Linked DNA regions of Homo sapiens: region 2 is linked to region 1. Evidence: fine-mapped expression QTL. A gene starts in region 1. The other region holds a variant in brackets. All regions are shown on one strand. Distances are from middle to middle.

Region 1 (10,208 bases):
TCCAAGCAGAGAGAATGGCAGAAGTTCACTTCAGGGTTGTTAAAATGCTAATCTGGGTGAGTTAACAAAAGCTTAATAGAAAAGGAAAGTTTGAGAAATAAGTACACCTCATGTGGTATCTGTGTGGACCACTGATTTGATCGCCCTTGGTTACATAAATGGTTGTTTTTCAAAGTAAGAACGTCTAGTAGTTTTCCTGTTGGGAGAAATGCAAGCAGCTTCAATTATCAGTGGCACTGCCAGTGTTGTCAGGTGTGAGGAGGAAAACTCCACCTGACAATAGCCACCTCAACTAGAAAGTGTTATGGTATGTTTAAAATAGTTATGTGATTTTTATTCTCTCCGTGTGTCATGGGAATAAATCAGAACACTTTTTTTTTCCCCAATTGGAAGTTGGCAGCTGTTCACAAAATCAGCGGCAACCCAAGACACTAGCTTTGGTAGATATTAACACTAAGTCTCCATTCACATGAGCCACAGAAAGTGAGATCTCTCACTCTAAGGACAGATTCAATGCGTGAATTACACTTAACAGTACATTGAATCATTCACTAGTGTTAAAGGCAGGTAGGCTGCACCACTGCAAATATCTGGTATGGATAATCTTGCTTTAAAATCTCTAGAATAAAATAATACACTTCTAAAGAAAGAAGCATATCTACATTTCTTGTCAAAAGGTCTGTTTTCCCATCCTTTATTTCCTTCTATTTTTGCTCTATTGAAAATACAGAGAAACATATCTGGCTCACCTGGTGTTGGAACACTGGCTAGCACAGCTCCTTGCAAATGATAAATATTCAGTAAATACTGCCTAGTTGGCATACCCCAACTGCTTCTTGCTTCCTCTAGAAAGGCATCTAGAATATGCAGGCTTAAAGTCTATCAATTAAAATAAAAGACAATATTTTATCACGCAATATAACAAGGAAAGAGTTCACCTCCTACGGTTACACTACTAATGGTTAGGCATTCAGCCAGGCTCTTAACTCTGCATAAAATGCATCAAAAGGGTGAAAAATGACCCTATTTCAGATGCATTTTTCACTCTTTGTATCTTAGTGAAACTCACATGCAAGAACAATGACTAAGCTAATTACCAAGGTTTATTATGATGGAGCAGCAAGAAGTGAAGAACTTCTCCAGTTTCAATAAGTCTTTAGCAATTATGGCCATCTTTGTGAATCAAGGCTCTGATTCCTGTTTACTTGCTTGTGGCCTTTCAAGCGACAGAAACCACGACATTGATGTAGGGGCCTGCTTACCCCAGTCACAGTTACTGGACAGAGCCTTTCTGTGCATGCAGCAAGGAACTGAAGTCTTCTGGATTTCTAAGTTGTCCTCACTCTAAGGACTAACGGATTTACATCACAGCCATCTTTCAAATCCATCAACCCATCAAACCAGGGGAGACATGACCAGATGGTGCTATTAGAGGGCACCAAAAGAAAAAAAGAGAGAAAGAAGAGGAAGACGGCAAAATGCCCACAAATCTAAATCAAACTCAAGTTAACCAGCTGTTGGTGATGAAGAAGTCACAACATTTCTGGCATACTCTCCTGAGTCACAGAAATGTTCCAAAAAAAAAAAAAAAAAAAAAAAGAAAGGTTATTGATATAGCATCCCTACGAGGAATAAGGCCAGGTAGGAATATTCTGTAGGATGCAGTAAGAAATAGTTGCTAGTTGTTAATCTAACAAAATGTGCCAATGAAAGAAAACAGTCTGCTCAACAACACATTTTGGAAGCCTTAGGGTTATCTATTTAACTGTCTTTCTGGAAGTACATTCTAAGAGACCTAAACCAAACAAAGCACAGACAGTAACTATAAAAAACAAAACTCAGCTATGGCTGAACTATGGTTTATTTATCTCTAGATGTTTAGGTTCATGGTAATATAGACCCAAATCTCAGAGCTTATCTGGCATTTTCTATTTATCTAAGCCAGAGTAAATGTTTGTGTAATATCTGCCAGCTTGAAAGAATATGCCTGTCACTCACTACATTAAACATGACTACACACAACTTAATTTCCTGAGTTAGACACCTAAGAGAGTAAGGGGATTTATTTTTTAACAGCAAGAGTAAACCAGTATCAAAAGCTACTGTTTTTAAGCCACCAAAGGAGAGTAAAATCCTTCCCTTGAGCGGTCTGAGATGAGATTTCTTTATACTACAAGGAAGAAACCTTGAAAATTTTCTTCAAACAAGTATTTTTCCTATTCTAAGGGACAGAGATCAAACCAGTTTAGAAAAATGTTAGACCTTTCCCAGGGACTTCAGCTTTGGAATAAACAAAATAATCCACTTAATGGCCCCAAATATCAAGTAGGGGGAAGGGCAACCTTAAAAAGCACCCATAATTTTTATTACAGACTTAAAATTCTTACCGCCAGAAGTTTTGGGGAAAAATCGTCCTACTCATTGCCCTTTCACCCCAAGTAACAGGAAACACTACAGTTATTTTTAAAGGAAAGCCCCCGCTGTAGTGGCAGACATAAGGTCCAATGACTGTTGACGAAGTCTATATATCTATAGTAACGATGTGCTGCGCCTTCCCTGTGAGATCATCCAGCTGACGGCGCTGAGGGCTCGGGATGCTGGAACATCAGTTACCGAATGGTCACCCCAGAACAGGGAGTACTGCCCTAAGTTCCTCAAACGCTGCGATTCATACCGGGACTTCAATCCCCCTCCACACCCCCACCCCCGCCAGCTCCCTGACATTTCGCCTTTTAACAAGTTCAGGATTTAAACAATCACCTGACAGCAATGGTCCCAAGAGTGGATGGAGCACAAATTTTTCAAACCCAATTCTCGTGCACACTTCCAAGTCCTTTATGACCTTTCATTTCAATCCAAGAATTACACATGACAGAAGAAGCTTCAAGCCCTCCTAAATTACCCAAGGAAGGAGGCTACTGTATCAGTTTCTGCAGACCAGGGACAAACACCGCCGCTGTCAAGACGGGAAATAAAAGTTTCCCTACCTTCCTCCTCACCATGCCCCTGCCAGCGGCTGCCGGCGCGAGCGGCGGCTCCCTCCCGGCTGCAGAACGCCTCTCGTTGCCGGAGAAGGGGCTCAGCAAAATTGACTCTTCCTTATTTGTTTCCATCCATAATTGATGGGGAGATGAGAACGTAACACATCTCAGCACCGAGCTCTTGTCGCCTGGCGGAGACCCTGTCCAAGACGCTTCCGTAAAGCATTTCCAGTCGGGGAACAAAGCACGGAAAGTTGCTGGGTAGAGCGGCCGGGAGGAGACACCGGGAGCCGGGTGGGCGGTGGGGTGGCCGGTGGGCTGCTCCGGGCCCGGGAGTCCGCCCGCAGCGCGCTCTGCCAGTAAGGGGAGAGGGACGGTGGGAAGCGGCCGCCCTCCGGGCCTGGGCCGGGGATGGGGATGGCCAAGTCACCCGAGCTCCCGCCCCTCGCCGGCAGGCACTACCCGGGGGCCGTGCAATCCGGGCGCTCACTGACAGGTATCCTACGCCCGCGAGGGGCTGCTCCGGCCTCAACTGCGGCGCTGCGCCCCTTCTCCAGGACGCAGGCTAATGCTCGCCCGCCCGCTCCTAGCCGGGCGCAGAGCTGCCAGACCCCGGGCGTCCCAGCGTCCGCTCTGGGGCCAACGGGCGGGAGGGGGCGGCTAAGCCCGCAGGCGGCTCCTTCGGCCTTGGCTCAGCTCTCCCCGGCTGGCTCCTGGAGACGCTGTGCCCGGCAGAGAAGCAACCCCTGCTAACCCCAGCTATGTGCGGGGGACGCCGAGCTGGCTCTGCCTGGCAAGAAACTTTTACTTGATGCCCCCTCCGCTTTTTTTCCAAGGGGGTGCACAGTGGAGGAGGGCCTCCAAGTCCACTTGCCCCTCCCCCTAAGCCGCCAGCTTTGCCAGTTTTGACGCGTCCGCCAAACCTCTCTAGCCCTTTGCGCGTCCCTTGCACGGCAGGCAGAGAGAGCAGCTTGGAAAATAAATCAACTGTCCAGTGGCAACACACACACACACACACACACACACACACACACACACACACACACAGCGATTCGGGATCTCAGGTTCCGACCCCCACCGCGCGCACACACACACACACACACACACACACAGCGATTCGGGATCTCAGGTTCCGACCCCCACCGGGCGCCACAAGAGCATTAGCAAATTGTTGAAAACGGTCTTACCTCATTGGGGGGAGGCTGGTAAGAAAAAAGAAAAAGAAAAAAAAAAGCTTGCCACGCGCAAGGAAGAAAGAAAATAAAGAAAAATATTGTAAAAATAGATATCCCTCTGTCTCCTTAGGTCTTGGCTTCCTTGATAGAATCCTGAAACTCGCCACCACCCCTTGCAGCAGCAGCAGCAGCAGCGGGACAGAGCAGGAGCAAAACAAACCGATGCACGGCAAATGGTGTAATTCGATCCATCTCCAAGTCAATCCATCAGGCGAGCCGGAGCCTGGCTCCCTCCACGCACTCGGCAGCTCCCGGCGCGGGTCCCACCCCCGGGCACGGACGGCAGGAGGCGCGGCCGGCCGGGCGCGCTCGCCCTCGCGGGTGAACCGTGGCCAGCGCCGCCTGGAGGCCCCCACCCTGGCGCCGCGGCCCTGCTGACCCCTCGGTGGCCTCCGCGTCCCTCCTCTCCGGCGCTCTGCTGCGCACCCTCCCTCTCCCCACCTCTGAGTAGCTGCTCCTTCTAGCAACTCCCAGTGCCTCAGTCATCCAGCTCGCAGTGGGTGCTGCAGCCTGCGAAGCAACCTTTTCGATTCCCTCCCTCTTTCCCTCTCGCTCACTTCTTTCAGAGCTTTCCTCCAGAACCCAGAGGACAAATCACTGCAGCCCAGGAGAGCTGCGGGCGCAGTTGTTCCGTGAAGTTCTGCCTTAGTTTTCCAGTGTAAGATTTATTTTTTAAGCACATCTTTACAAACCCGCCCCCACATTACCCCCCCGCCCCCCATTTCTCTTTATAACCACTAAGCAAAACAGCTGGGAAGAAAGCAATCAAACATTGCTTTATCTTTATAAAATACAGAAATTGCCTACTAAAAATCCCATTTCTACTTTGAATGAAAGCCATTCTGTACAGTATAATTTTGCAGGCTAATGACCCGGTTTTACAGGCAAGTGTTTCATGTAATATGTTGTGGGAGAAATGAAAATGTCCTTGAAGTGACATCATTTAAAATTGACTGTCACAAATGAAAGGAAAAAAAAAGTCACATATTCCAAAACAAGAGGATTTTAATTCAAACTTCATTTCCAAGAACGGGCTGTGTTTTATTAATTTCCAGTTGAATTATGGATCACTGAGGGCTCTAAATGGCTAGAATGAACCATGATGCCCCTGTTTAAAGAAAAAGAAGAGAGCTTTTTCCGCCAAACTTAATTTTCATTTGAGTATGGTTAATTACCGTGAAAGAGAGAAGAGAGGGGCGCAGAAAGGACTTCCTTTCCTCAATGGTTCCTGCTTTCTCCCAAACACAGTTACATGTTTACATTTAGGAAAAATACCCTGGTCCTCGTTGTTTCTGAAACTTCCAAGGACAGCCTTGAAAAGGAACTCAAAAAAGACACCCCAAGCAACTGCTGCAGGACTCATCCGGAGAACTATTTCCTCCCTAGTTAACACTGTGTAACCCAAGGAAAGAAGGGGAGAGAAGGATGAGGAGTCTTTTAAAATATAGACTCTTTCCTGCTGTTCTTCCAATTAGAAGAAAAGAGTAGGGGGCGGAAAGAACAGCTTTGGCAACACAGCTCTGTGATTTTTTTCCTGTTGTTATTAGGTCTTTTGTTGGCCGGCTAGTTGGTGTTTTCTGGTTGTGCTGGGCTCTGACATCATTGCAAGTTACTTGGCAGTCAGGGCCCTTCCCCAGCCAACTTCTGACCCAGAAAGCTGTGCCTGTTTCCTGGCGTCCAGTTATTCTGTATTTTCTCCATCAAGGGAGCAAGCCCCCGTTGCAGGCAGAGGATACTGTGCATTGCATAAAGATTGCAAGGGGGTGGCCATTGGCTTGATGAGGAGTCAAATCGCCACCCACCTGGAGACAGAAAGCTCTTGAGTTGTCCTGCATCTGCAGTAGCAGCAAAGAGGGAAAAAAAATTAAATTCTGGAGATTCCTAAATTCCTTGCTAAAATTCCACAATCGTCAGCTTTCCAGAGTGCCACCTGAAGAGTGCAATTTGCCCTAGACTGAGTTCCTAAATCCAGGAAAAAATAAACTTTTAGATTGCAGAAGGATATGCTGGTAGGTCGTTTCAAGCCATGGATTAGCCGTGTTTTCAGTCTACATTATCAGTGAAGACTTCGGAGTCGATCCCTATATTTGGCTTGCTGGGGATGAGAGGTAGGAAGTAGGCTCTTCACTGTGGCATGGTACGAATGGTATCCTTTACCTTTTGGTCAAGACCAAAATATTACTTTTAAGCATTTATCATTTCCCTGGTTCCAAGAATCTTGATAGGAAAACAACGCTCCTTTTATTTGGATTTTAGTGGAAAGAAGTCTAAGGAAAACTGCTAACTCTTTATGCAGCTACCATTGTTGTGGTTTATTAGCATTTGGTCTCATCAGTTGATTTTACACACTTTTAACCTTTTAACTTTGCTACTTCTCCAGTCTAACTCCCCCCTCTCCCTACCTTATGCTTTAGATGCTAGCATTACCCAGAAACTTGCGGTTCACCACTGTGCCACACTGTTTCATGGTGTCTCTGCTTTCTGGGTACTCCATCCCCATATTGGTATGTAGTTTAATTTCTGCTTTTCCTGACTTCTAGCCAACAATTTGTTTAAATGTCAAAACTTGCCTCATCCCACTAGCCCCTACCATGGGCATAAGTGCTTTTCTTCTGTGCTCCCCTAACCAGTTCACTTACGTAATTAAGTAAATTGAAGGCAAATTACCGATTTAGCATGTCTTCCCCACTCGACACTCCTTAACAGCAGCAATCTCTATTTACCTAGACAGTCCCAGTGCCCACCACAGTGCCTGGCATTTAATGGACGCCCAATAAATACTTGTTAAACAGATCTAACAATGGAACCTACGACTTTCTCACACTCCCTTATGTGCTAAACCAGAGAATACAGTCAGCTCTAGATTGGATCCTTCTCCATTTATTCATCCTGCGTCCCCAGGACTCAGCAAAGTACTGGCATGAGAATGTTTGTTAAATGAGTAAAAGAAGGAAGGTATGGATGAATGGAGATAATTGAGTGTTTTCACCAGAAGAAATTGTAAAGGGCTCAATGCTTTACATGGTTAGTGATTATGCTTAAACATTATCTACATACATTTCCCATCAGTGGAAAGTAGTCATTTTGTTTACAGTCCAGTTTGAAGCATAACGGTCATCTGAAAATTACAGAAAATCTGTGTGTGTAATTGTTAATAAAAGTTCATCAGTCATCAGAAAGTACAACTTCTTAACTGTTATTAAACAAAACATCAGTACTTAATATGCACCCAAACTCTGTTCTAAGCATTTTACAAATATTAACTTGCAACAATGCTACAAGGTAAGTACTATTATTATTATTATCATTTTTATAGATGAGAAAACTGAAGCTTAGAGAGTTTAAGTGAATTGCCTAATGTCACAGAGTAGTAAGCAAGTAGGAGTTGAATTCTACCCCTTACTTAGTTGTAATAGTAGTTAATAATAGTGAGGTCATAGTTAATAGCAATAGATGATAATGAAGTCTTTGGAATATTAGTCTGGATTGAAACCCAGGCTCCTCCTCTCACTAGACTTGTGACTTGGGATAATTTATTTAGCCACACATGCTTCAGTCTTCTCATCTGGAAAACAGGGATGATGATAATAATATTCAAATTGATTTTATAAAAACAGAATGTGGTAATGCATGTAAAGTGTTTAGCATCTGACCTGGAACAAAGCAAGCACTGAATAAATATTAAACAATGCTTTTATAGATTCTCCAAAGGCAGCAGAATCTGGGAATCCTGCAGAATTGAATTTGAAACTTAATCCAACCTCACATTAAATGTGAGATTAAGGGCAAAAGTCCATGCTACACAATAGGTTTGCAATAAATGTTTGTTCCATTCCATCTCCTTCATTTTCTTATCTATGTGTATATGTCTATTAATTCTGATACACACACCACTCACTATCCAGTTGATATGAAATAACATTTTGTATGAATTTTAATGAATAATAAAATTTAGGACGTAGAATTTCATGTTTCAAAATAAAAAGAGGTATTGAAATTTCAAAGGTTGCTGCAGCTTCTGTGATTACTTTGATTTGGAATGCACATATAGTATTCCTTGCGTTCGCACATTATAGAAAGTGCTTTTGTGGCAAGGGATTGCTTTCAAAACTAATCTAAGCTCTCCATGACATGATAAATCATTAATAATATAGACCCAAATCTCGGCATCTGCATAGGCACAGCTGGCCTCCTTGTGTCAACAGTCTGCATATGAAAGTGACTCTGCCAAGATATTTCACTTTAATGAAAAATATTTATCACAGTAAATCTTAAGCCTCAAGATTTTACTGACATAATTCATTTCTATTATTATGTAGTATGATAGTATACCACCACAGCAGTGCTTATGTTTAGAATGATAAAAATGTGCTTTTTAAAGTCATTTTGATTATTCTACCTCAGCATGAATAATTTTTGCTCTACACTCTGAGGAAAGGGAATACACCATGCATTTATGGAACTAATAAATCAGTTACTTATCTAATTTTGCTAATGACTCTGTAGGTGTCACTGTGTGGAAGGACACTGAGTGCCCAAGCGAAATAAGAATAAGGCTTTAAAAAAATATTGTTTTTCCATAAGAAAGATGAACAGCAAACAGCCTTTAATAACACTAGCTCTTTTGCAAACAGACAAGAGATATGAAGACTATCATTTTATCAAAGATATTTGAACAAACAGAAGCAAAACGAACTTTTTGAAGGGTGGGTCATACAAAAAGCTGGCAACTCAGTCAGTCACTAAATTGTGCTTATCTGTACTTTGAAAAGGAATACTTAGGATACTGGAATGCCAGCTTATATCCCAACAAAAAGAAAGCTGAGACTCCAAATTCCTGACAGACTTCTCTCTACAAATTTACAGTAACCAAGCCTCTGACCTTGAAGAATTGGAGCTGAATAATACCTATTAAATGTTAGACTGTCTTAACCAAGGAGAAAGATAATGAAACTAATTAAAAGTGGTAGAAATTAAAAGTTTATTTACTTCTAAAAATATATACTTAAAACTTGGTTTTTAAAAACAAACCTCCCCACCTAATATTATTATTATTTGCTTCTGCCAACCTCAAAATTCAAACTGACAAAGGGAGAAGGAACTGACTGGATACCTGTTTCATCCCAGATCCTGGCCAGATACAATAGTATTAATTCTCACCACAGCTCTTTGAGACAGACATCATTTTATGAACAAAGAAACCTAGGCTTGGTTAAAATAACTATCTTATTAGGGTTTTCTGTCCTAGTAGGTGGTAGCCTAGATTCTAATCCCGGTTTGTTTGCCCCTCAATCCTTATTTTTTTTCTAGTATACCATTCTATGAAAAATGATATAAGCACAAGTTTTAAAAACTATGTCTTGGATAACACAGGAAATAAATGTAAAAACCCACAATTAGATATTCAAAGCTAAACTACAAGTAAATGTGTGCTTCAATGTCAAAATTTTTAATAATTTTTGCTTGTCACATAAAATCCAGTGTAAGGACATCTGCAATAGGATTCATAGCATAGTTTAAACCTCTGTATATTATATACATTCTATTATTCATATAACTGCTCTGAATCACTTGTAAAGAATAATAAGACCTATTTCACACCATGCAGATTTATATTAAAATAAACCTCTTTGGTTAAGCTATAAATGTTTCAATTACTGTTTAGGCCCATATGTTCACATGCTCCTCATCTTCCCCCAAATCTTAAGCATTGATTGTTTTACACCCAAAAACCCCTACATTATAGGTACAGGGAGCTGATTCATTGCCAGAAACCACTAGTGCCACCTACTGGTTAAGGAAAAGAGAATAGAATTCTGGGTAATTTCCATCTTTCCAAATAAGAGGCACTAAAAATGAAAACAATCTTTTCTTTCCTGTTTGCCTTCTCAGATAGGATGTTTACTATTATGGACATTTTATTAACATTGAATATATTGAAGTTATTAAAATTACACTGCTAATATGCAAGGGAGTGAAGGGTGGTGTATGT
Region 2 (10,208 bases), 260 kb after region 1:
AAAGAGATATGTGCACTCCCACATTCTTGTAGCATTATTCACAATAGCCAAGATATGAAAACAACATAAGTGTTCACCAGGAGATGACTGGATAAAGAAAATTTGATAAATATTTACAATGGAATATATTACTCAGCCCTTAACAAAAGGAAAATTAGCCATTTGTGTCAACATGAATGAACTTTGAGGACATTATGCTAAGTGAAACAAGCCAAACACAGAAAGACAAATACTGCATGATCTCACCTATAGGTAGAAACTAAAGAAGCCTAACCTATGGAAACAGAGTAGAAAAGTGGGTGCTACAGGCTAGAGGGTGGGAGTAATGGAGGGATTTTTGTCAAAGGGTACAAAATTTCAGTTATAAAATGAACTAAGTTCTGAACATCCAATATACAACATGGAAACTACAGTTAATAATAATGTATTGCATCCTTGTCATTTGCATATACAGTACATCTGAAGTGTGCTTACCACACACAGAAAAAAATGGTAACTATGTGAGGTGATGAACATCTTAATTTGCTTGATTGTAATTATTTCACAATATATATGTACATCAAATCATTTTGCATACCTTGAATACATACAATTTTTATTTGTCAATTATACCACCTATAAAGCTGGGAGAAAATAAAAACACATTATTTTCTTTATCTTTTCTATGAAAAGTTACAAATATGAACATTTTGATATCAGAAAAGCATGTCAAGTTCCCTGGAGGAAACCAATAGGTAATATTATTGCAGAATTGGCAAGACCCTTTACTGGTGAATTAGTCCATTTTCGCATTGCTATAAAGAACTACATGAGACTGGGTAATTTAGAATGAAAAGAGGTTTAACTGACTCAGGTCTGCAGTCTATACAGGAAGCATGGCTGGGGAGGCCTTAGGAAGCTTACAATCATGGTAGAAGGCAAAGAGAAAGGAGGCACATCTTACATGGCAGGAGAAGGAGGAAGAGAGAGAAGGAGGAGGTGCTATGCACTTGTAAACAACCAGATCTCATGAAAACTCACTATCATGACACCAGCAAGGAAAAAGTCCGCCCCCACAATCCAATCCCTTCCCACCAGGCCCCTCCTCCAACACGGGGGATTACAATTGGACTTGAGATTTGGGTGGGGACACAAATCCAAACCATATCAACTGCGTTTAGAACATAAAGTCAGAAACCTTTCCCCTTTATAAGTTATGCAATAATTTAGCCACCTAGCAATGTTGCAAAGCTAAGTCTAGGCAATAAGAATTTTAACTGGGATGCGGACAACTATTTGCCCACTTCTTCTTGTACAAACATCTATATTTAGGGGCTTATTATTAAGAACCAATTAATAGTGAAAGAGGTTAGAGTTAGAGGCCAAATAGAAATGATTGAAATTTTATGAGGAATGTTTCAATATTTCTTACACATTACAAATCCAGATACACATTGGTCAAAATGCATCTACTGACTACCTGCTGTGTTCAAAGCACTGTGAGTACAAGACAGAAGACGATCTTGTGTTTATCGAGTACCTACTATGTTCTAGGTGCTGTGCAAGGCACATTTAGTTGTTGTGTATCTGTGAGTGGTGAGGGGAGTCAGGGAGGGCCAGGAGGTGTAACAGGAGAGAAACAGAGTATTCTAGCTTGAGGCTCACTTTAATTTATCACTGGGATTCATACATATATGGCAAACTTGTGAAATTACCTGATTATTTGCAGAAGAAACTTAAGAGTCTCTTAATAGAGTAAATTCAGGCAAACCCCCACTTGGTCCATGACAGTGCCTTTTATCAGTGGGGTGGAGCAATCCATGGGACTGTCACTTTGATTTGTGTTCTGACCTAACTTTGTATGGACTCATATATTAACATATGGTACTCATCCATTAAGAGGTATTTAAATTAAAAGGTTAGAGAGAGAGAGTCTTTCCATTTTGACAAGGGTGCAGGGTGGTTTGTGCACATGGAGGACTATAAATAATTCAATAAAATTTTAGCTCCTTGAGGGCTTGACTAAATCAGTCACACCACAGTGGTGGCAGGGAATTAGCTACCATGCCTGCATACTGGCACCTCCTCAAACCAACCATCTTATAAGAGCAAAAGCCAGGCCCAGATGTGGAATACACTGTTGGCTGATCTGGGAGCATCAGGAGTCCTTGGCATGGACTGGACACTGGTGGCAGTGGTTCGGCATGAGGCAGAGACAATGGGTATCACCAAAGGCACCTGAAGCAGGATGGGTGCCTTTTCTTAACGAGCACATATGAGACACCTCTATGGTGGGGGTGCTGCAGGGGCTGAATTTATTACAATAGCATCCAGAGAAAGACTTTTTACCCTACATGATCCTGCAACACATACTTAACATGGAAAATATATTTTACTTTATTCCTCCTAACTGCCTGACAATAAAAGTTTATTAACCTTATCTTACTGATGAGGGATTGTAGCTAAAAAAAAGTTAAAATCTCTTCTTAAGGTCACTACATGGGTTGAATGGCAGCCCCCCAAAAGATATGTCCAGATCATAACCCCTGAAACCTGTGAATATTACCTTATATAGCAAAATATGTGAATGAGTAAATTTAAAAAGGGGATGAGCCCATTCTGCATTATCCAGGTGGGCCCTAAAGGCAATCATGTGTATGTATCCTTATGAGAGAGAGGCAGAGGGAGTCTGGGGGACAGATAAACGAAAGAGAAGACATACAGGAGAGGAGGTGGCAAGGTGACCACAGAGGTGAAGATTGGAGTAACGCAGCCACAAGCCAAAGTATGACTGGAGACACCAGAAGCTGGAAGAGGCAAGGAATGGGTTCTCCCTAAAGCCTTTAGAAGGAGTGCAGCTCTGTGGACACCTTGATTTCAGACTTCTGGCCTCCAGAACTGGGAGAGAATAAAGTTATGTTTTAAACCACCAACTATCTGACAACTGGTCACAGCAGCCACAGGAAACTAATACAGTCGCACAGTAAACTACAAAAGACATGTTTCAGATCTAAGTTTGTCCAACTTTAAGGTGTGTTCCCTTTGGGCCCCACGGGGATTCCCCCGACATACTATCAACACACTCTACAACTCTTAGGCCTACCATGACGCACACATGTGCTTCAGCTGCCACCACCTTTTCTTTGGAAATACATTGCAAAGGGTTGAGAAACTTTGGCGTTTGAGCCTATTTTCCTTTGTAAATGCAAATGTACTGCATGTGTTAAGATTTAAAGGAGACATATATGCAGTCAGGGCTATACGAATTGAGTCAAGAGAACTTGTCATGGGCAGAGATGATCAGCAAAGGATTTATGGAGAAGAAAGTTTTGAATTGTGAAGAAAAGGGTGCATGTATGTGGATAACTGTGAAGGACCAGCTTGAACATTCTAGGGCCGCTGAAGGCTTGAAAAATATTTCTAGGGGAAAATTACAAGCTTCATGCAGAGTTCACTGTGGAACCCAGCTTGCAATTGAAAATATTGCACCAAAATGAAAAACTAGGTGGATTTAGATCCTGGTTGTTTTTGTTACTGTTATCATGGATTGCTGCTATTCCTTCAGGAAACTGAGGTAGTCTTATTTACTTACTGAAGATCCTTTTCTTCATTTTTTTTAAAAAGTCCTTTCCATATCCAAGTTCATCATTGAATTGGTCTTGTAGCTACGTCTCTTTATGGTCAGGCATTTTCTCTCTGTCCATGTGCCTCTTTCAATGACATCTGTTTTGCTAAGAGATCTAATGAATTATAAGCCAGACTAGGACAAACAGAGCCATAAAGGCTGGGTTCTTGCAGAACAGGTTTTAGCTTTATTTCAGCCCTTCTCCCCTCACCCAAGGTGAATTAAGTAATCTTTATGAGATAAAATTACCTGCACTCTTGCCTAACCTTAATAATGAAAAAGAGAAGGCCTTTTATCTATTCATTGTGAACAGAGTAATCACAATTCGCTATGGCTCACAGAAACAGGAAAAAAACAATAACAACAAACCACCACAACTAATGTGTTTTTGTTTCTATCTGAAAATCCGAAGAACCTAGTAGTTTTAACTCTAGTTCATTACAGTCAACGATTTAATCTCTGATGGCAGGGAAACAAGAAATACGTTTATGTCCAGGGTAGCAACAGCATCACTCCAGATCAATATTCAAAAGGGCTGTAGGAAGGAGGTTCAGTTTCCTAAAAAAAAACCTATATAGTTCCCGTCTGAGAAGAGAGAGGCCGAGATGGGTCATTTGGGATACATGAAGCATTTGCCTTCCAGAATTGCTGGTGAGGCAACATATGTAGTGCTTGCCTGCTATGTAAGGCACTGTGCTGGGACCTGTGGAAAGCACAAAAGGTTAAAAGCATCATCCCTGCATTAAAAATCTTGTTGGTGAAACGAGTCATAATGACTTAAATTTTAAATAATAGCCCCAAACAATCAAAACAAAAAGAACCCCAAGTAAGAGTTCAAGACAACAAAAATAGCAAAAGGCAGGCCACATTTAATTACCAATAATTGCTACAGGATGTCAGAAAAATGGGAAGAGTATATCACACTGGCGTGGTCTGGAAAAACTCCATGGTAGTACCAAGATTTGAAATGAATCACGCTAACAGGATGTAAAAGGAGAAAAACATCAGTATCTAGAATCACCAAATAGTAACTTTATGAAATATTCAGTATTTTCTGGTAATACACCAGGCCTATCTTACTCATGTGGCAGGATCAAACCTTGGTATGCATTGACTTGGACCTGGGCACACTGGGAGGTAACATTGTTCTTTCATCCCAGTATAAATATGAATATACAAGCAGAAACATATACATTCTTCACA[C/T]ATTTTACAAATTTGCCCTTCAAGTTCTAATCTTATGAATTTATCCCTTTGGGACTATCTGTCGGTTTGTATTGCTCTTAGCTCATCCCTCTTAAATAAATTAACATATGAGGACTAGATTTTCCATTCCAAATAGAATGACTCATTGAAGAGCAGAAAGCAATTAAATTTCCAAGATGAAGCTTTTCCCGAACATCCTATACACCTCACTTTACCAATTTAAAAAATTGCTATGGGCATTATTATTATTAATATTATTTTTAATGACGGAAATACTGTTCTATGCTATGTGTAATAACCATGAAATTTAACTCTGATGGACAAACCTCAGATTCTTGGTCTACTAGATTCAACTTAATCATTTGTCCAACAAATATTACAGATGACTCCTTTATGCTAGGTGATGTTTCCAGTGCTTCAGATATAATAGTGGGGGAGAAAGCACAAGGTCTGTGTATTTATGCAGCATACATTCAAGAGTGTGTGTGTGGCAGTGGCTGTGGGGAGACAATGAAGAAGTAGTCTAATGAATAAAGGCAATTTCAGAGTGCAAGGTTTCTGCATGTGGAATAATGACAGTGTGATGAGATGATGAGGTGCAGGTGGGGATGCCATTATTTTAGGCAATGTGGTCACCAAAGGCTTCTCTGAGAAAGTCATGTTTGAAGTAAGAATCAAATAAAGGCAGTGATGCGAAGACCAAGCAGAGAGTGGTCTGGGCTGAGACAAGAGCAAGTACAAACGCATTGGCATAGAAATGAGCTTGCTCAAGGAGCAAAAAGAAGGTCAGGAGGGCTGGGCAGAGTGAGAGAGAGGAAGTGGCTGGAGGAAGCAGGAAGAGGAAGTAGGCAGGAGTCACACCATCTGGGGACTTGTGAGCCACAGACAGGACCCAGCATGCCTGTTTAGGGCAAATACCAACAGTAATTTCACAAGATCAAGGCATAGTTAGTTGAGTTAATTTCCGGGTCATTAAATCTGCTGTTTTATGTTAAAGTGCTTATTGGTAAGAAACATCTCAGTTACTTATAAGCAACGTTTACCAAATCTATAACATTTACCAAAACTGGGATTTGTTTGTTCACCCAGTTTGATGATTCTATTATAGTTTAAATAAAAATTAGGAAATTTTTGCAATATGTTTAAATACTCCTCATTCCCCTTTCACAATATTATCTGCACAAAAGGTTGGAAGACAAAGAAAAACATTCACAATTACATTAACACCTAACACTAATGAATCACTGATTTCCAGCTGTCTTTCTTCCTTCTTATACACTGTCCTCAAGCACACAGCATCATGATGTAGTTTTTAATCATAGCAGATATATGATTTCCCTTCAGTGCTTTCAAAGCACATTGAGAGTCGGGTACTCATCATTTTGTAAGATTTGGTCATCAGCAAGATGATTTCTCGGACTACTCTAAATAAGCCTGGCTAACCCAACTTCATTGATCACTGCTTGCAATGATTTGCCCCTTCTTGTTGGCTTAAATCTTCACTTCTTATCAAAATTGGCTTTTCAGGGTAAAGAAGACTTGAGACAAAAAGTAATTTCTGATAAGCAGTAATGAGACTGACTCCTTCTTACTGAGCTCCCTGGGCATAAAAATTAGATTCTAAATAATTTCTAAATAATTTCTGAGAATTCACAGGAGGAGAATTCCTCGCCATAGCTGAGTGTCAGAATGTTGCAAATGAAGAGACACAGTGGTGGGATGGCTAATTAGATGACTTTAACCTCACCTAGCTATGCCTTAATAAAACCTAGAAAATAGGCATTTTTTTTTAAGTTTGTATGTAAGATTTTGAAACTCCCTGACTTGGGGATTTGAATACGGGGATCTAAAGAGCTTAAAAGGTCAATGGAGGAGTTAGTGGAATTGATTTTCAAGAATGGATTTTATTTAATAAATTCATGTGTTATTTAGGAAATTGAAGTAGAAGAACCAAATACAGTATATTTTAAACACTCTGCACTACTCCACATTTTTCCCCAGATAGTTATCTTTGTTATCACCCAGAGATGAAATCTTTTTAAGTAGAATTTAATAGACTCTCCACCAGAAATTCTTAAGAATTTAATATTGGTTTAAGTGCAAAGCTGCAGGGGAAAGAGGGGAGAAAACCTATTGTTTGTTTTGAGGTTATTATAAAAGTTTTTAATTTTAAATATTTCCACTTATGGATATTGTAAACACCTCAAATTTAGTGTAGTCAATACAGAATTTTTGATTTCCACTGTTACTTCCCTTCATCTGTTTCTCCGTGGTCTGTCTTGTTTAGTAAGTCACCACCACCCAGTGCAAAACCAAGCTAGGTTTTTCTTGATTCTCCTCTTTCTCTCAGATGATCCTGCATTCAATAATCAAGCCATCTGCAAGTCAGTCTACAAAATATGTCACATGGCTGTAATCAATGTATTGGTGGGCTGTGTTTTCATCTGCAGGTTCAACTGGGAAGAATCTGATGCCCAGATCATTCAGGCAGTTGACAGGATTCATTTCCTGACAGCAATTTGAATGAGGGGCCTGGCTTTCTACAGGCTGTTGTCTGAAGGCTGCTCTGAGGTCTTAGAGGCCACCAGAAGTGGCTAGAAGCTGTCTACACACCTTGCCACATGGATTTCTCCAACATGGTCACTCAATTCATCAAGCCTACAAGAAGAATCTCTGGCTTCAGTCTGCTGAGATAGAGTTTCACATAATGCAACATAATGATGGGGGCTGTATCCTATCACCTTTGCTATATAACAAAACCTAATCACAAGAATGACATCTCATTACCTTTACCATAGGTAATGGGTTAGAAGCAAGTCACAGGTCCCATTCACGCTCAAGGGTAGAAGATTACACAAAGCCATGAATACTAGGAGGTGGAAATCATTGGGGCTTATCTTAGTGTTTGTCTGCAACATTTATACTGATATTCTTTATTAATAGTTTATTTATTTATTTATTTTTGGTTTTGACCTCATAGCTTTATTTCTTTTGCTTACTTTGATTTCAGATGTTTTTGTCCCTTTAGGTTTTTTAGATGGAAGCATATGCCATTGATTTGAGACCATTCTTCTTTCCTAAAAAAAGGTGTTTAGTACTATCAGTCACTTTCCAATCACTGTGATAACAGCATCCTACACATTTTTATTTTTCATGCTTTTACTTTAATTCATTTCAAAATACATTCTGATTTCCCTTTTGATTTCTTCTTTGACATACAGGTTAATTAGAAGTGTGTTATTTCATTTCCTAATACATGGGTATTTTGCAGATATATTTCTACTATTAATTCCTAATTTAATTCCATTGTGGCTAGGGAATATATTTTGCATATTTTGAATTCTTTTTAAATTAATAAGACTTCTTTTATGGTCAGAATATTGTCTATCTTGGTAAATGTTCCATGGGCCTTTGAAAATAATGTGTATTTTTGTTATTGGAGAAAGTCTTCCATAATGTCAATTAGGTTAAATTAGTTGATAACATTGTTTAAGTCTTTTATATTCTTATTTAGTATAAATTTCCTATTTATTGAAATAAATTGTTAAAATATTCAACTATGATTCTCATACTACCGCATATATGGTGAAAACCTCCAATACATCAGTATAATTTCTACTTTAAATAACCAATGGTATTTTAAAGAGATTTTTAAGAGTATTTTTATATATGCTCACAATTTTAACATTCTCAGTGTTATTTATTACTTTGTATAGATCTAGATTTCAGCTCTTGTTTGTCTGAAACATTTCGTATTTTTATTTTGGTTTTGAGAGATATTTTGCTGAGTATAAATTCTTGGTTGAAAATTTTATTCTTTCAGTACTTTAAGAGGTTTCTTCTCTGTCTTCTGGCTTGCATTGTTTTCAATGTCTGCAGCCATTTTTATGTTCTCTTTTTGTCTGTATTCATTGCGACTTTTTTTTTCTTTTGGCTACTTTTAAGGTTTTCTGTTTATCACTGGTTTTCAGCAATTTGATGACAATACATTTTGGTGTAATTTTCTTCCTGTGCTTGTGCTTGGCATTTATTGAGTTTCTTGGATCTTTGGGTCTATATTTTTCATCAGAGTTGTAAATTTTCACCCATTATTTCCTCAAATATTTTTTCCATGTCTCTTACCTTTTGAGTACTCTAATTACAAATATATTAGCCTGCTTGAAAGTATCCTGTGTGAGAAATTTGGTTAGTTTCTAAAGGAATATCTTCAAATTGACTAACCTTTTCTTATGTAGTGTCTAATCTTCGGATAGTCTCTTCCTACATATTTTTAAATCTTGGGCAGTTATATTTTATCTCTACAAGTTTGAACTAGGTCTTTTTAATTATCCTCCATATCTGTGCTTAGCATGCTCATGCTTTCTTTTACTTTCTTGAACATATAGAATATACTTATAATACTGCTTAATATCCTTGTGTGCTGATACTTTCATCTGTGTTTTTTTTCTGAATCTTCTTATATTGATTGATGTTATTTCTCCTAATAAAACGTGTATTTTTTCTTCTTTGTGTGTATAAGTAAGTCTGTATTGGATGCTTGACATTTGAATTTTATATTTTTGAATGCTGGATATTTTTGTATTCTTTAAAGTAGGTTTGAGATTTGTTCTGAAACCCAAATAAATTATTTGGTAAGCTTTTCAAGCCTTGCTTATAATCTTTGTTATAGAAGACCAGAGCAGTCTTTAGGAATAATTTTTTATTGCTACTAAGGCAATACAGTTCCAAGTATATTGCCAGTGCCCTGTATAATGCAAAGTTTTTCCACTCTGGCTGGAAGGATGAAAATTCTTACCAGCCTTATGTGATCTCTTGAGACTGTTTCACCCACTTCTTTATTGGTTCTTTCTCAAGATGTGGGTGGTTTCCTCACACCCTCATACTGATGAGAATGCAGAGAAGACTTGGGAACACTCATTATGGAGACCTCAAAAGCGTTCTCTCTGTGCAGCTCTTTCTTTTCAGTACTCTGTCTTACAAAGTCTAGGGGCTGTGGCCTCCCTGAATTCTCAAATCCATCTGCTAACTACAGGGGGACTACCGCCATCTGTTTCAGATCCTCCTTCCTGGAAACTCTTGAGCAGTAAACTGAGACAATCTCAGTGATTACCTCATTTGTTTCCCTTCTATCAGATATTACTATTTGCACTGCCTATTGCGTATCCTAAAACTGTTGTTTTGGAAATATTATTATTTTTTTCTTTACTTGTTTAAGGTGAGTGCACAAATGTAGTCTCTGGTCCTTCACTGCTAAAAGTAGAAGTAATCTTTTCATTTTGTACCCTATTATATGTACTTCTTTATTATAATGTTGAAAGAAATTCTAGCGGCAGCTCTAATAATTTGAAGCAGTGTTGAGCATAAATAATATTTCCAGATATCTCTAAGGACTGTGTGTGAT

Alleles and levels. Positions count from the first base shown, and alleles are read on the strand shown. Sizes are in standard deviations (SD) of each study's normalised expression.
With allele T in place of C in region 2, the expression in fibroblasts of the gene that starts at base 4,356 in region 1 is higher (moderate effect, 0.67 SD a copy in GTEx).

What was found. PIP is the estimated chance that this variant, and not a neighbour inherited with it, causes the effect.
Region 2: its variant is fine-mapped to the expression of SEMA6D in fibroblasts (GTEx, PIP above 0.99).

What each region holds. Positions count from the first base shown.
Region 1 is chr15:47,711,653-47,721,860 of GRCh38, reverse strand. It overlaps SEMA6D (semaphorin 6D), which reads right to left and starts at 4,356. Exons shown (of 19, transcript NM_001358351.3): 1 at 4,169-4,356. RefSeq lists a silencer at 4,235-4,529.
Region 2 is chr15:47,456,430-47,466,637 of GRCh38, reverse strand. It overlaps a transcript of SEMA6D not described here. Among named protein-coding and RNA genes, the nearest start is that of SEMA6D, 260 kb to the left of the region's middle. The variant C/T (reference allele first, on the strand shown) is at 4,808.